Linked DNA regions of Homo sapiens: all the other regions are reported to be linked to region 1. Evidence: microRNA targets listed by miRTarBase, many of them from high-throughput screens and not tested one by one. Region 1 holds a microRNA gene; each other region holds the end of a gene's coding sequence.

Region 1 (7,199 bases):
AAAAATTTAGATTGTAATCAAGAGGAAGGGTATTCTTCTCTTATATCACTAATACTACTACATTATCGCCTGTGTACAACCAGTGTCTACTGCTCATGGTATCTTCTTCCCTATTTCATGAGCTCTAAGAGTTTTCCTGGGCAGAAAGTCTCACCACCCTAGATGTGTGTCTGGGGCAGTGACAGTGGCACCACTGCAAATTGTTCTCAAATTTGTGCTTATTTTTGAGAAGGTGTGAGTTTGTGTGTGAGTATGTGTGTGTTGGTTTTTACAAATGAGTTAATTTAGTTAGTTGATTCGTTCATGTGCATATTGTGGTTGGGTTTGGGGGGACTTTTCAAATTGTTTTTGCTTAGTAATATTGTTTATCCAGACATTGGTAACTGTCTGATTTTGGTTTTGTTTTTGTTTTTTGTGATATTATTTTGTTTATAATTGTCCTTTCATTTCCAGTCTCTGTGCATTTATTTTTCAAAGTTGGTTCTTCCTTTTTAGGTTTATTTGTTTATTTTGTTTGCTTGTATTATTATTTTTAACTGACACATAATCATTGTACATATTTTGGGGGTACAGTGTGATTTTTTATTGTTTGCAATTCAGTGTTCATGGCACCTCTGCTTGTTGTTTCGTTGCATACTTGAAGTTTTTTTTTTTTTTTAAGTTAGAATTGTGGTTTGTGTTTCAGCAAATGTTTTATTCCTGTTTCGGGGGGAGGGGGCTGTCATGATTTAATTATTAGTTGTTGGTTCCAATCTGAGTTTTCTTCTTTGGTTTTGATTTGGTTTTAATTTATGCGTTTGGTTTGATTTGTACTGAGAGGTGCTTGGGAGTTGTTTTAGTTGTAGTTTCCTTTGTGTATTTAGACATGTTTGTTTCTTTCCTGCTGTTTTGCTATATCTTTCTTTGTTTTATTCTCTAGTGTATTTCTATTTGCTTTTCAGCTGACTTTTTGTGTGTATATGTGAGTGGGTGGGTGGGTGGATGGATGTGGGTGTGTATGCGTGCATTTCTGTGATTATTTTTGAATGATGTTGACTTCTTTAAAGTATTTTGTTATTTTCCATGTATTTTTAGTTTCAGTTTGTGTTTATTGTTTTATTTTGTGTGTGTGTGTGGGGGGGGGGGGTTCTTCATTTTCCTTGTGTTTTGGGATATTTAAATTTGTATGAATTTTGTTTTGTTGCTGTAGTTATTTTTTCCCCTTTAATTGTGTGGGGCTCAGAAAGTTTTGTCTTTCATATATATGTGCGCTTTATTGGGGATGTGTTTTTTTTTTTAAGTTGTGGGAGTTTGCTTGGATTTTAAATGTTTTGCCTCAGTATCTGTGTGTATGCTTACATGGTTTGGTATTTGCAACATGCTTTCTAATTGATAAGTTCATGTATTGATTCTGTTTGGAATTTGTTGTAGTTGATTTATTTATTTATTTTAATCCTGTTTGTTGAGCTTTTCTAATTTGGGATGATTGTTGATAGGGGTTTAAAAATATATTATTGGTTTACTTTTTAGTTTTTATTTATTTGTGCCCTGTTTTTCTGATTCATTACTTTTTAAAAAATCATTTATAGAAGTTTTGGTACATAAGGCTAAAATTTCTTTCTTTTGTTAGGGATAATTTGCATTATTTGTTGATTGATTTTTTTTTTTTAGCTTATATGGTTTTTTTGAATTGTGTGTATGAGCATGTGTTTGTTATTTTGAGATTTTTGTATTGTGATAGCTTTAGTTCTTAAAAAGCGTCGTTGATACATGACTGACATAAAGTTTGCGCTTTGACATATTCTGTTTATACACCCATGAAATCATCCCCTAAATCAAAATAAATAGGGAATATTATACATCCTCCCTGAAAGATTCCTCCTGCCTCTTTGTGATCCTCATTTTCGGTCTTCTGCACATAACCACAGAGCCATGCAGCCACTAATCTGCTTTTATTCACTATGGATTAGATTTTATTTTCCAGATTCTTATTTTTTATTTTTTGAGATGGAGTCTCTCTCTGTCACTCAGGCTGGAGTGTAGTGGCGTGATTTCGGCTCACTGTAAATTCTGCATCCCAGGTTCAAGCAATTCTCCTACCTCAGCCTCCCGAGTACCTGGGACTACAGGCGCACACCACCATGCTGAGCTAATTTTTGTATTCTTAGTAGAGACGAGATTTCACCATGTTGGCCAGGCTGGTCTCAAACTCCTGACCTCAACTGAACCTCCCACCTCAGCCTCCCAAAGCGCTGGAATTACAGGCATGAACCACGGTGCCTGGCCAAAATTTTTTATTAAAATGGAATCATACTGTATATACTGTTTATTTTGGCCTAGCTTATTTCTCCTGGCATAATTATTTTGAAATTCGTCCACATTGTTATTTGCATCAATAATTTATTTGTTTTTATGGATGAGTAGTATTCCACTGTATGGATATTCCAGTTTTTTTTAAATGCATTCACCTGTTAATGGCCATTTGTCTCCAGTTTATAGCTATTTTGGCTTTGACTACTAGAAAAGACGTAGCTATGAACCTTGATATAAAAATATCTGTATGGAGAGGCAGAAGGAGAGAAGGAGAAAGAGAGGGGAGGGGAAGAGGAGAAAGGGGAGAAGGGAGAGGGTGGAAGAGGGAGAGAGAAGGAGAAGGGGAGGGAGGGGGAGGAGAAAGTAGAGGGGGAGGGAGAACCAATTCCTGGAGCCCACAGGAAGCACGACCTGGGAAGCAAGGTGTAAATGTTACATGTCCATATCAGAGGATGGGATAGAATTTGATAGTCTGCTGCTACATTATCTCCCAGGAAAGCTCTTTCAAATCATGTCTTTCTTGGTGTCTAGTTGGCAACTGATGATGTGTGTGGATTTTGTTTTTGCAGTGGCCAAATACCTCACTTCACCCAAAGTCATGAGGAAATACAGGCTGTAGTGAAGAGGTGGGAAACTGTTCTACTTTGTTTTCTATCATTGTTTATTATGATACCTCATCTGTTTACTTCTCAGTGTCCACTGCTCTCCTTCCTACACTCGCAGCATTTCTCAGTGCAGTGTCGTCTATCCCTGATACGTGCTAGATTTCCTTTGAACTTCGTTCTCTGTTTTGTTTGGGATTATTGGAAAGTAAAGTTACATTTTAGTGTATTTGTTTTTATGTTTTGGGGGTTTTTGTATTGTGTATGTTCTTTTTGATTTTTGTTATTGTATTGCTTGTTTGCTTTTTTAGGGTTTTTGTTTCCTGTAGAATTTTGTATATTTGGATGTGTTTTGTATATTTTGTGTGTTTTTTTTTATTCCGATTTTGAATGGTGTTTTTAAATGTGTGTTAATTAGAATTTTCAGTAGTATTTTTACATTCTTAAAAATTGTTACTCCCGGCTGGGCACGGTGGCTCATGCCTGTAATCCCAGCACTTTGGGAGGCCGAGGCCAGTGGATCTCCTGAGGCCAGGAGTTCAAGACCAGCCTGGTCAACACGGTGAAACCCTGCTTCTACAGAAAATACAGAAAATTAGCTGGGTCTGGTGGCACATGCCTGTAATCCCAGCTACGTGGGAGGCTGAGGCAGGAGAATCGCTTGAACCCAGGAGGCGGAGGTTGCAGTGAGCTGAGATTGTGCCATTGCCCTCCAGCCTGGGCAACAAAAGCAAAACTCTGTCTCAAAAAAAAAATTGTTACTCCTTTATTGTTTTTTTAGTTGACACATAATAATTTGTAAATATTGATGAGATATAGTGAGATGTTTTGATACATACATGCATTGTGTAATAATCAAATCAGGGATTTAGTATTTTCATTACCTCAAACGTCCATCACTTCTTTGTGGGAAGAACATTCAAAACCCTCTCTTCTAGTGATTTTGGAATATACCATAAAATATTGTTAACTAACTATAATCAATCACTCTTCTGCACAATAACACATCAGAACTTTTAGCCCTCCTAACTGTGACTCTGTACCCATAAACCAATTTTTCCCCAACCCCCCTTTCCCTTCCCTTCCCCAGACTCTGGTAACCATCATTCTACTCTCTACTCCTATGAGATCAACTTTCTTAGACTCTGCGTATGAGTCAGATCATGCAGTGTTTGTCTTTGTGTTTGCATTGCCCTATTTTGTGAGCATTCGTTTTGGGGTTGTTTGTTTCATTGTTCACATGTTTATTTGCATGTGTGGCATGCATGTGTTCACATGTGTTGCAGATATTTCTTGGTCTAAACACTGGTTTGCAAGTGCATGACTGTGGTGACTACTGCTTCTGCTGCTGTAGGCCTTCATCTCTGAACAGAGGATGCCAAACCAAGGCCCCAATGATATAAAGAAGATTCAAATTGGAAAGAAGAGAACTCTCCAGCACTGCTTCAACTGAGCTCTATCTGGCCTGCAATCGCTAGATATGATGAGTCACTTGAGTGGTCCTTTCTATGTAATGACTGGCTTTTGAGGCATATGAAGTAGTTGTTCATGTGCCAACTATATTAAATTGAAAATTAGCAGAACAATTTAGTGAAGTATGCTAAGTCTGGGAGGAAGAGGGAAAATTTTCTCTCTCCTAAAATCTGTCTCATTAAATGTGCAGCAGGTGAAGTAATTAATAAGCATTCAGTGAAAGACATAGGAGACAAAAGGGAGAGGAAAAAGGGTTTGTTTTTTTTTTAATCTATTGACTATATTCTGCTTATTCCTAGTGGACTGAGAGTGTTGGGATTCTGACTGAAATGGCGGAGTGAGGGACATTTTCCGCTGTGCTGTGTGTAGTGCTTCACTTCAAGAAGTGCCATGCATGTGTCTAGAAATATGTTTTGCACCTTTTGGAGTGAAATAATGCACAACAGATACAAGTCAGAACTACCCACTCAGTGATGGGTCAACTCATACAACCCTTTAAAGAGAATTCTGTGGGGTAAAACCTAGAGGATGAGGTTCTCTGGGAATAGCCTCATCTGTAGTTTCCCCGTGTTACTATTAAGATGGTCAGTGCCACCACCATCAGCCATACTATGTGTAGTGCCTTATTCAGGAAGGTGTTACTTAATAGATTAATATTTGTAAGGCACCCTTCTGAGTAGAGTAATGTGCAACATGGACAACATTTGTGGTGGCATTGGTAATGACGAGTGGAATTTCAGTGACAATACTGCCCTCCCTTGAGCCTTGGTACCCAACCTTTAGTGATGAGCCATTTCCAGGTACTCTCTGAAGTACCTCTTGAGAGATCTGCTCCAGAATCTGAGGGTGCCTGGGAAAAGTCTCTCATGTAGGTTTTTCAATTATTTATTGCTTTTTCTCCACAAAATGACTGACTACACTGGAAACAAGATTTGAGGTAGGAACATGATACTTCTTTTTCTCTTGTACCTCTTAGTCTTTTCTCTCTATAACAACCCAAATACACTTCTTGCCTTATAAACCCCTGAGAAGTTTACACTGATCTTCTTTCCTCACAATATTTAAGCCTTCTTTTTAGGGAGCACAAATATCCTCCTGCCCTTCCCTGCTGAACTCCAAACTCCATGAACCATCTTTCTTATGAAGTGATCTCCTCAAGGCTTAGATACACTCAAATTCCCTTTAATATTCCTGTGTATCCGTGATGATAATCTCATATCAGTGGAGTTTGATATGATACCCCAAATTTGCTTTCATTTGAACTATTTATATGTTTTTAGCTGGTCTTAACTATTATGGGAACGGATGAAGTGATGAGAACATATATGTATGAACATGTGTGTACATATACTTCTGGAAACTTTACATATACAAAGGGGTTTATATATCCCTTTATATATATATATATATATATATATATATATATATATACACACACACACACACACACACACACATACATATGACATTCACAGAAAAAGGAAAAGGATGCAGAAAAAGGATCATGTTCCTACCTCAAATCTTGTTCCCAGTGTTTTGTAGTCCTTTTGTGGAGAAAAAGGAATAAATGCTTAAAAAACCTACAGGACATACTTTTCACAGGTACCCCAGGCACCCTCAGATTCTGGATCAGGTCTTATAAGACCTTCAAAGAAACACCCAGGACAATGATTGAGCAAATATATATGTATATAATTATTATAGAAGTCTATTTTTAAAATAAATCCCTTAAGATATTTATTATAAGGATACTGCAAGGAATAACCTCAGGCAACTATGGAGGCTGGTGAGTTCCTAGATCTGCAGGGGGATGGGTCAGCAAGCTGGGGACCCAGGAGAACTGATGGTATAGTTGCAGTCCAAGTCCAGAGGCCAAAGAAGCAGTAGAACAAACCATTTTGTAGTTCCAGTCCAAAGGCCAGCAGGTTTGAGACCCAGGAAGAGCTAATGTTTTAATTTGAGTACAATGCCAGAAAAAAATGAGATGCCCCAGTTTGGAGGCAGTCAGGCAGGAGGAATTCTCTCTAACTTAGGGGAGAGTCAGCCTTTTTGTTCCATTTAAACCTTCATCTGATTGGTGCAGGCCCATCCATCCACATTAGGGAGGGTGGTCTGCTTTACTCATTCTACTGATTTAAATGCTAATGTCATCCAAAAAGACCTTCACAGAAACACCCAGAATAATGACTGACCAAATGTCTGGGCACTCCATGACCCAGTCAGGTTGAAATATAGAATTAATCATCACAAGTTCACTCCTTGTCATGTTGTCACTTATACGCATCTCCTTAAATTATATTTAATCATCAAATGAGAAAAATACCAAGGTCATAATTTCATTTAATAAGATACAACTACCATTTATACAACCCAGAATTCATGAACCACTTCACCAGAAGAGGAGATAAAGTCCTGGAGTGTTGTTTGTTTACTCTTCTCCTTGGTGTTCCATAACATCAATACTATGATTATTTAAAGTTAACAACGGTTAATAACTATGATATAATATCAGTACACCTTACGTTACATGATAAGGGGATAAGAGAGACAAGAAAACACAGAAGTATATTAATAAAAATATAAGTAGAAAATACTCATGGGAACTACAATTCTCATTTCTGTAACTGTCATCTGGTGTTAGCTGGTATTTACAACTACTTTTCTTCACTACCCATTTTGTATTCCCTTTGCCTTCAGCAAGCACCTCAGCCATTATATTTTACCTGGTAGAGTGACCCAAACTTTCATTTCTGAAGGGTCTGGGCCATTAGTAGTCCTGCCAGGATTGGGTTGTTGTAGTTTTCTACTGACCTTAATCACAAGGCATAGTAA
Region 2 (7,199 bases), not on the chromosome of region 1:
TCAGAAGCCTGCAGCTCTCTCCTGGAGCGCTGCTGGTTTATCGGAACCGCCGGATTGGAGAAGCACTGCTACTGCTCCTTTCCTCTCTGGATAATACTGATCTCTGTCGTGTTTCTTCTTTGGTCTCGTGAGCTCATTGTCATTCTGGACTACCCCTTTCCAGCATCCCTTGCTTGCTCAGTGGTGTCACCTTCTTGGGCCTCAGATTCCTCGTGACCTTGACCCTGGAGCTCATTTCAGCCCCTTTCTTTTCATCTTCTCCTCCTGGATATTCAGCTCATCATCCACTTCTGCCATTTCTTTCTTTATCTTTTATCTTCCCTTGTTTCCTTCCATAAATACCTTAATCTAAACTTGTACTCACTCATGCCTGGGTTATGTAACAACCTCCTGTATCCTAACTTCAAGAAACAGTTTTCCCAGCACACACTTGTCATGAAACACCTACTGTTGTGATTGTTTATCAGGCCCAGGTGTTGGGGTTGTTTTGCTTCCCGTCTGTGCTGTGTTCGGGCTCCATTCCAGGCCACTGTTGGTTCTCTCCCAGAACCCCTTCTTTCAGAAGGCAACTCTGGATGCCTTCCCTGGTGCCCAAGCCCTTATTCTTTCAATCAGCAAAGATATGCTGAGTGCCTGTGAGGTGCCAAGTACTGCCTGTTTTCATCTGATTATTATTTTACTAAGTGTTTTGTTAGCATTTATATACTTTTTGCATTGTGCAATAATAACTTTTTCAATTTGTGTTATATATTACATACTATTTATTGGTTGGTTGTCTGTTTTCTAGTCCTTTAATCCTGCCTTTGAGAAAGGGTAATAATTTAGGATATGTTCACTGTAAGAGATACTATGTGTGTCCAAACAGCTAACATGCAGTGGGTTGGGCTGACTCTGTTACTAACATAGATCTTGGCTTCTTTTCCCAGGGATGAAGTCAATAAAGCGTATCGGAAACTTGCTGTGCTTCTTCACCCTGACAAATGTGTAGCACCTGGCAGTGAAGATGCCTTCAAAGCAGTTGTGAATGCTCGGACAGCCCTCCTGAAAAACATCAAGTAGAAAGTACAGAAAAAAGCCACATGTGGGACTCAAATGCAAACAGACTTTCCCTAGAGGTGAAATAACCAACGTGGAGTTTTCCTTCCCAGAATCTCACTGCTCTTTTCATTCATGTGTTGTCATTTGTATATCAGTAATTCAGGTACCCATTTCATAGACATTTTACTGAGAAATGACCTGCATTTGTATGAAGTGAACTGAGCGTCACACCCTGTACTTCATTTCATATTTCTAGATAATTCTGAATTTTTTTCTCATTCGTCAGCTCTGTAATTATAGTATCACTTAGACATTTCACTTGGGGAAATCCACAAGGTTCCTGGAGGAGGGAAGAGAGGACAAGAGGACCCTTTCACTTTTTCTTTTTTACGGAATTCATCATCAGAGAAGAAAATAACAAAAATGGAAGCAAACAACATCAGAACCCCTGTAAGTTTGGTGTGACCTTACAGACAAGTTGCTGCTTTTACAATGAGTTCCTTAGGTGGTATTTTAACCCATCGATCTATAATGATGACTCTTGGCAGCCCTTTGGGAGTTTGTAAAATGAGGTGATACAGTTCTGAATTGAGCATTCCTTTATGATATTCACTCTGTTCCTCTTCTGCAGCCACCAGTGGGAGAGACAAGCCAGTCCTAAGAGAAAAGGTGGTGGCAGCCACAAATTCTAGGTACACTGGCTGCTGCCTATCCTGTCCCTGGATCTGAGGCCTTTCCCTTGCCATAGAAATGGTTGCTGGTAGCAGTAGAGAGCACTGTGCACCTGGGAATGAGGAATCAGGCCCCAAGACAGAAGTACTTGGAGGAGCCAGCTGCAGTAGTATCCGCCTGTAGTCCCAGCTACTCAGGAGGCTGAGACAGGAGGATTGCTTAAGCCCAGGAGCTCAAGTCCCACCTGGGCAACATAGTAAGATCTTGTCTCTTAAAGAAAAAAAAAAAAGGTACTTAGAGGTCGCACTTAAAGATTATGCACATCAGCAGAGGAAAGGCCAGCCAAGCTTGGGGCAAGCTTGATGCAGTAGGAGAGACTCCTTATGAGGCTTAGCCCTTGTCTTACTGCCAGCCTTTGCCACAGGCAGGTGAGAAAGGCAGGGCCACTCCTCAGCAAAGTTGGCCTCTTCTACACTTCCTCACCAGTGTTGTTTCTTCCTTTTTTCCCCTCTTCCCCTTCCCGTCTTGTGTTTTTTCTGAACCCCACATCTGCCATCATTTCTCTCCTCTAGAGTCCCTGGCTTCTGGCCACTGCCTCCTCCCTCTTCTAAGCCTTGGCCTGAATCTGGTTGATCAGAGGCAAGTGTGGATCCTTTGGGTGGCAGTCAGGGGAGATCTCAGGGCCTCTGTTGGGAGGAATCTCTGTAATTCCTGCTTGGGCTCCAAATTTCTGAAGAGTAATATTTTTAAACTATAGCTTACAAAATACATTCTCTGACCACAGTCTCCTCCTTGATATACAAGGGATGGATGAAGTTCATGTATTAGGACTGGCACTCCTTACGGTGCTTATAGAACTAGTCTCACCACTTGACTCATTACGTCGTCATTCTTGTTACATCACTCATACTTTTAGCTGCAACCACACTAATTCACATTTTTATATACTTTCAATTAGCTGTACTAATTGGGGCTTGAAAGTATATAAAATCTTCCTGTCCTGTGAATTTTAAAAAGCTATCCCATATCGATTGCCAAAGAGCATCTACCTTACCTCCTAAGAAGAAAAGCCACTTTCTTCCAATCCAAGCCCACTGCAGCCTTGTGGATTTTCCACACAGCAGCTTTTCACTGTATGCCTGTACTTGGGCTGCACTGAGCTTGTCTTCAGGAAACCAGAGCGTTGCTTTATCATCGCACTTTTCATCTTGGTAATATCAAAACAACTTTTTAAATGAACTGATTGATATATGTTATTTCTTGCGAGGTTTTCCTCTGGCCTTTAACTGGCTTCTGAGGCTACAGAACTCCAACCCAGAGTTCTTCGGGACCTAAATTTTGCTTAAGGAAGGCCTTTATCATGCTGAAAGCACTCAGACATGTCTGTCCTCACAGCAGAATGTAGAAGTCATATGAATGAGGGATCGTGCACGGTAGCGTCAGCCCGAATTGACACGACAACTCTGAATGTGTGGCCCTCTATGAAAGCTGGTGCCAGTTTTCATCACTGTTATTAAATACTAGATTGGGAACCTCATTCAGCCGTATTGCACAGATGAGCAATTACAGCAGAGAAAATTCATTAGTGCTCCCACTCATATCCTTATGTGTGAGTTGGTGAAATTTAGCCTGAGCTTGATTCTTAGGTCTTGAGACTCAGTTTCCAACACCTTCATTATTAATGTTAAGAATGGCCATATACCACTTCATTTACGTAAAAGGAATAAAATAAGCAAGTTAAGCTTCAGGGTCCTAGAATTTTTCTGATTTCTATAATCCTTCAGCAGAATATTAAGAAATAAAGCATGATCTGCAATGGAAAGGTTTTTTTGGCACTAACTTCATGCAGAATTTCACAGACATCTATGCATTAATTTAAATTCTTGGTGCAAATGTGTGCTTTGTAGTTCAACCTTATTAAAAATTCTTCAGCCAGTTAGGATTTCAAAATACATTAGTGAGAGTAACAGCTAGCAGAATAATTACAATGGCTAAAACGTTTTTATAGAGAATCTTGTTTTTCAAAAAAGAATAAAAAGTTTGAATAGCTATTATTAAAGAAAAGCCATGTCTTCAACATCTGAGTCACCAAGAAGTAACACTTTTTAAACTTGTTAGAAATCCCTGGAGGCATTTCAAATTCATCTTCTAACCTACCTAAGCACTTTAAAATACAGCCTCCTTCTGTTCCTCTGTTCCCCTTCATGCCTCCTTTTGAATTGATATCTCAGCTGTCAATATTTCTTTGACTTCAGCATTGTTATTTTATTTCTCTATATCAATGTGTCCTTAGTTTTCTTAGCCTGTTAATTTAAAAATCCAGACTTGGGGGTCATTGTGTTGCTACCCAAGAGAAAATGCTACAGTTTTATAGATTGCACATCATTCTTTAAGGCATACTTTTACCTCAGGAAACTTACTCTAGTATGTTCTCATATATTGAATTCTCAACTAAGTAACTATTTCTTTATACCTATAAACTAGTACCTAATTCACTGTTAGTTAAATGAGCTATAGATAAGGCAGCTAAATTTCTGAAAGATAGCCAGAGTAAGTAAGCAGCCACTGCAAGCTCTGAATCAGTTTTTTAAAAAAAAGAAAAAAAAAAAAAAGGAGCTGTGCCCCATTGAACAATGACAACATCACAAGGGGAAGGGAGGGATTTTGCCAAAAGTTAGAAAGGTGGAGCTGTAAGCCATGTGCTTGTTGCCTTTGACAGTGACAGTGCGCGTCTTACAACTAATTCCACTAGGCATGGGAATGTCACCTCCTTTGCCACTGTACCCCATCAAGCTTACTCTGAATCAAAGGTTTTGTAAAACTTTTGAAAATGAACTTAGCTGCAAAATATAGCTAACCACTTTCCATTGCAAGCTTTGCAAAGTGAAGAGAGGTTCGTACTTCTCATAATTGGTATTTAGCACAATTGTAAGATACAGTTTTACTGTTTGTACATCGTTTTTTTCCATTAAACTTTTCTAGAGAAGACAAAAGCTTACACTGGTGACATGGATAAGTGAGATGGTGTCTAACGAGCAGTGCAATATTAGGCGGTGCAATAGAGGCCCTGTTGGCAAGATGAGTTTTGCTGGAGAGCTGGACAGTGTTGGTTAGCTTCCTGCATTGATTGCCCCTGGGCGTTCTTCCCCCTTAACTGTGAAAGCAGAGTCTATAAATGAACTCTTTGCTCTTACAAGGTAATTTACATATTTTCTTTCTGTTGAAATAACTGAAAATGTTAAATCTACCAGTTTATGTCTTGTAAACAGAGTGTCATATGTATTTAAGTTGTGTATTTTTATAAAGTAAAGCCAAGTATCAAACACCGGTCTGTGGGCTGCATTTATTTGTGGAAACACTGGTCTTTAATGGAAAACATACTAAGCTAGATGCCAATCCAGTTCCTCACCGACTGTGACCCTCAGTAAGACATTCCTGAGAATGGCCCACCCCTCTTTCAGGGGAGCTACTCTGTCCTCTTCATCCTACTAACATGGTCTAAGGGGGAGACGTTCAAAATGTTCAAGGTCTTTTTTCTTTTTTTTTTTTTTTTTTTTTGAGATGGAGTCTCACTCTTGTCACCCAGGCTGGAGTGCAGTGGTGTGATCTCAGCTCACTGCAACCTCTACCTCCTGGGTTCAAGCAATTCTCCTGCCTCAGCCTCCCGATTAGCTGGGATTACAGGTGCCCGCCACCATACCTGGCTAATTTTTGTATTTTTAGTAGATTTTTGTAATTTTAGCCATGTTGGCCAGGCTGGTCTCGATCTCCTGACCTCGTGATCCACCTGCCTTGGCCTCCCAAAGTGCTGGGATTACAGGCGTGAGCCACTGCTGAGCCATTGCGCCCGGCCTCAAAGTTCAAGTTCTTTCCCATCTTTCCTCCCTGGTCACAGACACCAGTCCACAGGACAGGAATGTGACCCCAAATAGGTCACATAGGTGTCCTTCCCTAGGATCTCTCCAACTGAAGCTAGGAAGATACTTTCTCTCAGGAAAGGAAGAAGTCCCAGTGATGGCTGACAACCTTGATTCCAACCTCATGGGAAAAAATTGAGAATGAAGCAGACATCCAGCGAGAGGCAGAGTCCTGATGGTTTTCAGCCTTGCCTTCTAGTCCTTGAGGGAGGGCCCGTGAGCTTGTTTGTCAAGCTCGTCAGCCACCTCGGAGTCCTTCCACTTGTTTACTGCTTCAGTTTAGTTGGAGTTTGCTTTCTGTTACCTGCAGCCTAAAGAATGTTAGAAAATAAAAGCCAACAAGGATCATAAGCAGGGATGAGAAAGCTATGGTCAGTAACATTTAACAAGTGTAACATTTTATGTATTAAAATATATCCAATTACTTAGTTTTTCTCAACTGGAGTCTTTGGCTGCTTTTTAAACCAATAACCAGTTGTAAATGGAAAAGAACTGGACTTACTCAGTTCATTTCAGGGTCAATTTAAGATGCAAAATTATCTGGCTTTTTAGTTTCCAGTTGATCCATTGTCTATCGAGGGCACCTGTAATTTCTTAAATTTTTAATCAAACTTTATTGTTAAAGTGTTCATTCACCAGCCGGGTGCAGTGGTTCACACCTGTAATTCCAGCGCTTTGGGAGGCCGAGGTGGGTGGATCACGGGGTCAGGCATTCGAGACCAGCCTGGCCAACATAGTGAAACCCTGTCTCTACTAAAAATACAAAAAATTAGCTGGGCATGGTGGCGGGCACCTGTAATCCCAGCTACTCTGGAGGCTGAGGCAGGAGAATCGCTTGAACCTGGGAGGCAGAGGTTGCGGTGAGCCGAGATCGCACCACTGCCCTCCAGCCCGGGCGTCAGTGCGAGACTCCGTCTCAAATATATATATATATATATACATTCACCATGTATTTACTGAGCATCTACCATGTGCCAGGCCCTGTCCTAGGCACTGGAGATCTAGCAGAGCACAGAAGTGACAAAAATCCCTGCCCTGTGGAGCTTACAGTCTAGTGTCATTTTTTAAAATTTGTGTTTTGAAGAGTTTCTTTTTTTCTGTAATTTATTTCTGAAGAAGCAAGTTTGCATTTTTTAGAAATCTTCAAGATATACAATTTCAGAATTAATACTCTTATTGCTACTATATACTGAAGATCATGTAGGTTGTTAAATGCTTTTATTTTTTTGAGAGCGCAACCATTATCATTATGCCAAGCTCAGTTTTTCAGGTTGGCCTAAAGGAAATAGTTCCAGCTGGGCGCAGTGGCGCACACCTATAATCCCAGCACTTTGAAAGGCCAAGGTGGGGGCAGGAATCACTTGAGGTCAGGAGTTCAAGACCAGCCTGGCCAGCATGGCGAAACCCCCGTCTCTACTAAAATTACAAAAATTTCCTGGGGGTGGTGGTGAACACCTGTAGTCCCAGCTACTAAGGAGGCTGAGGCAAGAGAAGCGCTTGAACCCAGGAAGCGGAGGTTGCAGTGAGCTGAGATCATGCCACTGCACTCCAACCTGGGTAACAGAGTGAGAC
Region 3 (7,199 bases), not on the chromosome of region 1:
GCTATCACTCCTTCATTTTACAAGACAATTCCTCTTTGACTCTGTTTAGTGTCTAGATTAGCAGGTATTTGTTGAGATAAAAATGATAATGGGATTTTAGAACTGGAAAAGGCCTTGAAGATTATCTAGCCCATTAATTTCCAATTACCCATCTCAACACACTTTAAGATAACACATGCCCATCAGCAGCCGTGGCTCTGTAACAGCAGCATCTCAACTGGCTTGGTGTGAAGGTAGTATTATTCCCATCCATCTCTCTTTTTTTAGACAGGGAGACAGGGTCTTCCTCTGTCACCCAGGCTGGAGTGCAGTGGAACACTCTCGGTTCACTGCAACCTCCATCTTCCGGGTTCAAGCAATTCTTATGTCTCAGCCTCCTAAGCACCTGGAATGCCCAGCTAATTTTTGTATTTTTAGTGGAGGTGGTGTTTTGCCATGTTGGCCAGGCTCCATCCATCTCTTAACACTTATTATTTAAGCAGCATTGAAGATTGATTAAAGTACAGTATCTCTGCCCAAGTTAAGAAATTTTATGAGTGAAATATAACTTGATTTAACCTCTGGCCGAGGAATTTAAAATTCAATTGGTTTTTCATGTGGGTCAGTTGCCCATGACCTGCCCTATAAATAAATGTCGCTGAGCTACTGAGTTATAAATATATCATTTTAAAGAGGATTAGAAATCCAGCCGGGCATGGTGGCTCAAGCCAGTAATCCCAGCGCTTTGGGAGGCTGAGGTGGGCGGATCACTTGAGGTCAGGAGTTTGAGACCAGCCTGGCCAACACACCGAAACCCCATCTCTACTAAAAATACAAAAGTTAGCTGGGCGTGGTGGCGGGTGCCTGTAATCCCAGCTACTCAGGAAGCTGAGGCACGAGAATCGCCTGAACCTGGGAGGCAGAGGTTGCAGTGAGCCGAGATTGTGCCACTGCACTCCAGCCTGGGCGACAGTCAGACCCTGTCTCAAAAAATAAACAAATAAATAAATAAAAATAAAATAAATAAATAAATAGATAAATAAAATAAAGAGGATTAAGAATCCATAGAGAGAAATGAGAGCTTGAAGTGAGTAACAATAGAAAGGATTTAAGGAGGGCAGGGTTAGGAATTGAGCAGGGGATTTGGAAAGAGAGTCCTGGGGATTGCAGGCAGTCAGCCATAAGCCTGGCTCCAGGGGCAAAGATATGCTTAAAATCGACAAACCCATGTCTTCTGAGCCCTAGTCAGGCTGGACCTGAAGCCCCACTGTGAATCATCTCCATCTGAGTGTTCTTGTGACCGAGTAGGACTCCCCTTGCTGATGCCTAAACTCTTGTGTTGCCCCCTCCCTCAGGACCAGTCTGAGCAGTGGGACCACCTAAATTGTGCCGTGTATCTTGCTTCTTGCTTTAATTCATTAATTTTTCCTCCCAGTCAATCACTTTACTTCTAAGCTTTAGACCAAGCTTATCCAATTGGAGGCCCACGGGCTGCATGCGGCCCAGGACGGCTTTGAATGCAGCCCAACACAAATTGGTAAACTTTCTTAAAACATTGTGAGATTTTCTTTCATGATTTTTTTTTTAATTAGCTATTATTAGCGTTAGTGTATTTTATGTGTGGCCCAAGACAATTCTTTCAATGTGGCCCAGGGAAGCCAAAAGATTAGACACCCCTGCTTTAGAGGAAACGAGTACATTTTGGTAACGTGAGAGGTGAACAAACCTGGAATTTAGCTTTGAATATTCTGCATTTAGTATGTGGATATTTGAGTACCTCATAGCCTGCTTACAAATTAGCTTCTAGGGCTGACCCTGTCACTAACAGCTTCATCTGTAAGCTGAAAGGGTGACTGAGTGGGCAAATAACAACTCTCTAAGCCTTGGTTTTCTGTCCTGTAAAATGGGGACAATGGTAAGTACTTCAGTGTGTTAATAAAAATCAAAGGATTTTTGGTTTGTGGCTGGGCGCTGTGGCTCATGCCTATAATCCCAGCACTTTGGGAGGCTGAGGCTGGCAGATTGCTTGAGCTTACAAGTTTGAGACCAGCCTGGGCAACATGGCAAAACCCTGTTTCTACAGAAAAAAAAAAGAAAGAAAAAAAAAGAAAAATTAGCCGAGTGTGGTGATGTGTGCCTATAGTCCCAGCTACTAAGGGGGCTGAGGTAGGAGGATCATTTAAGCCCAGGAGGCGGAGGTTACAGTGAGCCAAGATTGTCACTGCACTCCAGCCTGGGTGATAGAGCCAGAACTGTCTGAAAAACAACGCTAAGGGCTGGGTGCGGTGGCTTATGCCTGTAATCCCAGCACTTTGGGAGGCCGAGGCGGGCGGATCACGAGGTCAGGAGATCGAGACCATCCTGGCTAACACAATGAAACCCCGTCTCTACTTAAAAATACAAAAAATTAGCTGGGCGTGGTGGCGGGTGCCTGTAGTCCCAGCTACTCGGGAGGCTGAGGCAGGAGAATGGAGTGAACCTGGGAGGCGGACCTTGCAGTGAGATTGTGCCACCACACTCCAGCATGGGTGATAGAGCGAGACTCCATCTCAAAAAAACAAAAACAAAAACTCTAAGGTAAATGTTATCCCTACCCTGGAGGTAACCTGAGGTCTTTTCCAGCTGGTTCTTGAACAGTATAGCACACAAGCATCTAAAGTATCATCGGAATGGTACTGCCATTTACTGAATGTCTGTTACCTGCTCAATACTGTGCAAGGTTTTTTATCAGTTATCGAATACTCCAACCTTATTAAGCTGGAGCATTAAATATATGTCAAATGTAAGTATGTAGGTATTATTTCCTACAGACTTATTATTACCTTTACTAATGAGTACACTGAGGCCCTGACAGGGTTAAATCTCTTGCCCAAGTTTACGGCAGTCAGTGGGTTTGAACTCTTATCTGACTCATGTCTGTCTGACTCCAAAGTCCATGTTTGCTCTATTCTGTCATTCATTAGTCTTGTAATAGAACTAACTTAATAATGTAATGTAAGACAGGGATGGTTGCAGACAACTAGAAATGTTAAGAAACTAGACTAATAATTTAAAATGATTGCTTTATGTATTCACTGTGGCATGTTTAAATGGTCATAGGGCCAGGAACATATGCCATTCTTTCAAAGCACTGAAACTTGGCACTTGAACTAGTTTAGTCTGTCTTACCAGAGATCTGTAGTTATACTAAGACTCTTGGATGAGAACATGATTTTATTTAATATGAAGAAAATATAGGCTGGGCATGATGGCTGATGCCTGTAATCTCAGTATTTTGGGAGGCCAAGGCCGAAGAATCACTTGAGGTCAGGAATTTGAGACCAGCCTTGGCAACAAAGTGAGACCCCCATCTCTACAAAAAGATTAAAAAATTAGCCATGTATCATGGTACATGCCTGTGGTTCCAACTACCTGGGAGGCTGAGGCAGGAGGATCATCTGAGCCCAGGAGGTCAAGGCTGCAGTGAGCTGTGTTCATGCCACTGCACTCCAGCCTGGGCGACAGAGCAGGACCCTGACTCCAAAAAATAAAAAAATGAGCTGAGTGTGGTGGTGCACACATTTAGTCTCAGCTACTTGGGAGGCTGTGGTGGGAAGATCCCTTGAGCCCATAAGTTCGATTGTGTAGTGAGCTTTGATCGTACCACTGCACTCCAGCCTGGGCAACAGAACAAGACTCTGTCTCTACAAAAAAAAAAAAAAAAAAGAAAAAGAAAAAAGATCATCTCACTTCCTACCTGCCTTCTGGTTCATTCTATTTTTTTTCTTTTTTTTGAGATGGAGTTTCACTCTTGTTGCCCATGGCGTGATCTTGGCTCATCGCAACCTCTGAGTTCAAGGGATTCTCCTGCCTCAGCCTCCCAAGTAGCTGGGATTACAGGCATGCGCCACCACACCCTGCTAATTTTGTATTTTTAGAAGAGACAGGGTTTCTCATATTGGCCAGGCTGGTCTCCAACTCCCAACCTCACATGATCCGCCCGCCTCAGCCTCCCAAAGTGCTGGGATTACAGGCGTGAGTCACCACTCCTGGCCGGTTCATTCTATTTTTTTTTTGCCATTACTTTTAATGGCAAAAACTGCAATTACTTTTGCACCAACATATATTATCAAATCCACTCTTCTCTCACCATCTCCCATACCCACCATGGACAGAAAGTGTGACCCAGGCATTAATTCTAATTTTCAGGATATGCATTTTACTCAGAGGCCTAATTTAAAACCAACAAAAGAAAACCAAAAATCTTCTTAGCCTATCAAGATAGCTATATCCTGATAAGCTAAGAAGTTATTTTGTTTATATCATTTTTTCAGTACTGTACTTCATGCCAAACTTGTTTATATCAAGAAGCGGGCTTCAAATATGCCAAATACTTTCGTCGAAGAAATACTGCTAGTTTTGGGCCAGGCGCAGTGGCTCATGCCTGTAATCCCAGCACTTTGGGAGGCCGAGGCAGGTGGATCACGAGGTCAAGAGATCAAGACCATCCTGGCCAACATGGGGAAACCCCATCTCTACTAAAAATACAAAAATCAGCTGGGCGTGGTGGCACATGCCTGTAGTCCCAGCTACTTGGGAGGCTGAGGCAGGATAATCGCTTGAACCTGGGAGGCAGAGGTTGCAATGAGCCGAGATCGCGCCACTGCACTCCAGACCGGGTGACAGTGCAAGATTCCATCTCAAAAAAAAAAAAAAAAAAAGAAAGAAAAAGAAAAAAGAAATACTGCTAGTTTTTCTCACGTGCATGTGTGCACATGTAGTTCATTTGCTTATTTAAGCCGAGGTTTTAACACATAATTGGAAGTCCTAAACTAAGGACTTTGGTTTACATGGAGTGCTATGGTACAATCTCGGCTCACTGCAACATCCACCTCTTGGGTTCAAGCAATCCTCCTGCCTCAGCCTCCCAAGTAGCTGGGATTACAGGCGCCCACCACCATGACCAGCTAATTTTTGTGTTTTTAATAGAGATGGGGTTTTACCATGTTGGCCAGGCTGGTCTCGAACTCCTGACCTCAGGTGATCCACCTGCCTCAGCCTCTCAAAGTGCTGGGATTACAGGCTTGAGCCTCCACAACCGGCCGGGTCTATATTTATTTTTAAAGAATTACTTCAGATGAAAATGTGTCATAAATTGCTGCTTTGCTGCACATAGTTACCATTATGTTGCTCATGTTTTATTGACTAGTTCTTGATCTTCAAGTACTTATACCTGGTGTCAGTATGCTTTAGGCATTCATGAATGACAGTCAACAACTGAGCTGAAGGTCATGGGGCACAAAGCTGCAATTCTTTTAATGGTGATGACAGTAACGTAAGTCTGATACACAAGCAGTATGTATTCAACACACTGATACCTGATAGCATGTCAGGAAAAAAGAATAGGCAATGCAGTTTAAGGGGGGAAAAACTGAGAAGTCATAACTACTCCAAAGATGTGCAGGAAACCACAAAAGACATGGACCTGCTTCTACTATAAAAAGAAAATGAAGCACTTCTCTGGGGTTGCTATACCAACTGTTTCAGCCCATTGTAGTCTTGCCTCTTTCAGGGCTTTAGCCACTATTTCATTTCATGGAAAAGCAGACATCTCCTAACAAACAGAGTGACATTTACCAAAATAAAGAGGGCTTCTCAGTGAGAAGCTTAATAAAGAAAAATATTTACCTATGCTTTGCACAATTTTCTTTTTTTTTTTTTGAGACGGCGTCTCGCTCTGTCGCCAGGCTGGAGTGCAGTGGCGCGATCTCGTCTCACTGCAGCCTCCACCGGGCCCGGGTTCACGCAATTCTCCTGCCTCAGCCTCCTGAGTAGCTGGGATTACAGGCACGTGCCACCATGTCCAGCTAATTTTTGTATTTTTATTAGAGACGGGGTTTCACCGTGTTAGCCAGGATGGTCTGGATCTCTTGACCTCGTGATCCGCCTGCCTCGGCCTCCCAAAATGCTGGGATTACAGGCGTGAGCCACCGTGCCTGGCCTGCTTTGTGCGATTTTCAAAAGCCATTATTTCTATTCAATTTTGGGTACTTAACTACAGTGCTGGATGTAAAGTTTATGCAGTAAAAGCTTATTGAATGAATGAATCATAGGATAAATAATACAACTAGTAATTTCTTAAGATCATAAATTCCATTACAGTAACCCTGGTAGGCAACTCTATAAAGTTCTGGGCTCCAAGAAGAGGTCAGTGCATGCCATAAATGTGTTTGATCTGCTGTGAAGTATATTCAGTCTTCAAAATGTAATGCTTACATGAGATAAAATCGGTTGGTTACCACCCCCAAATTAGCATATGCCAGCCTGCACAAAGGTAAATAGCAAAAACTTTAACTGCTCAATCTGAATTAACCAAAGATTCCTTCTAGGAATCTTAAAAAAAAATAAGGGTACGAACACTCCAAGCACTTATTTTCAGATGCATCAACTGACATAAATTAAAAATGGTACAAACTAATAATTGAACACCAGTAGCGTAACAAAATAGAATTTTCACTCTTTCTGCTTTCAGTCAAAGTGGTTTGCTCATGTTTGCTGAAATCAGAACTGAAACAATGAATAAAAAGAATAGATAAAAGTGGTTCTTCCATTAAAGTTCCATTCCCTGCCCTCAGCTGATGAGGGCACGAGAACTCAATGGAGCAGTTAGGGCAGACTCAAATCATCTCAGCTGGAAGCACTCTCCACTTAAACATACTCATCTGGCCCACCCTCATTTCAAATTTAGGCAAAAATGGCCTCCCTGAGGCTTTATGACTTGCTTTCTTCTTTTTCTTCTGATAGTGTTTCCCAGATTGGCTCCTTGATGTGTTCTGGTAACTGTTCTAATTGTGTCTAAAAAAAGAAAGAAACAAAACTATAATGTGGATTTAACAGAACTCTTTGACTACAAATCGGACTTATTAATTTGGTCAAATCCTCTTTACTTCTTTTTCTTTTATCCCCCTAGTCTTTCTATAGGGTTTTGAAATGGAAAGAAGGAAACTTGATGGTCTATAAAACACTCTCACATACATAATCGATTTGATCCTCAATGATCTTCATGGATTGCCACTTAATGGGATCCCCAGGTCTAGACAACTCATATTGAGGAGGGAGAACTTCATAGGTGGTTCACGGAGGACTTGGGCTGAAATGGCAGGATTCTGTTGCAAGGGGTGGGTAGCCCCCAACCGCTGTGGCAACTGTGTCTCCCAGTTTGCCACAGTTTAGGGCAAACT

Evidence for each region. Region 1 holds the annotated microRNA hsa-miR-506-5p (UAUUCAGGAAGGUGUUACUUAA, at 4,992-5,013, shown strand). A microRNA usually pairs through its seed, bases 2 to 8, with sites in the 3' UTR of a target mRNA and lowers its output. Matches are read on the target gene's strand: a 7mer-m8 pairs with bases 2 to 8, a 7mer-A1 pairs with bases 2 to 7 and ends in A, and an 8mer does both.
Region 2: the mRNA of DNAJC27 is a reported target of hsa-miR-506-5p. Seed matches in the 3' UTR shown: 7mer-m8 at 2,329-2,335.
Region 3: miRTarBase lists MRPS10 as a target of hsa-miR-506-5p. Seed matches in the 3' UTR shown: 7mer-A1 at 6,207-6,213.

Annotation. Positions count from the first base shown.
Region 1 is chrX:147,228,602-147,235,800 of GRCh38, reverse strand. MIR506 (microRNA 506) reads left to right here and starts at 4,958; the gene lies at 4,958-5,081. It overlaps MIR507 (microRNA 507), which reads left to right and starts at 4,724; the gene lies at 4,724-4,817. The region is part of intron 2 of LOC105373347 (periphilin-1); the gene reads right to left.
Region 2 is chr2:24,941,476-24,948,674 of GRCh38, reverse strand. DNAJC27 (DnaJ heat shock protein family (Hsp40) member C27) reads left to right here. Exons shown (of 7, transcript NM_016544.3): 7 at 927-5,033. The coding sequence ends at 1,059. Among named protein-coding and RNA genes, the nearest start is that of ADCY3, 25 kb to the right of the region's middle.
Region 3 is chr6:42,201,560-42,208,758 of GRCh38, forward strand. It overlaps MRPS10 (mitochondrial ribosomal protein S10), which reads right to left. Exons shown (of 7, transcript NM_018141.4): 7 at 5,248-6,813. The coding sequence ends at 6,730. Among named protein-coding and RNA genes, the nearest start is that of GUCA1B, 10 kb to the left of the region's middle.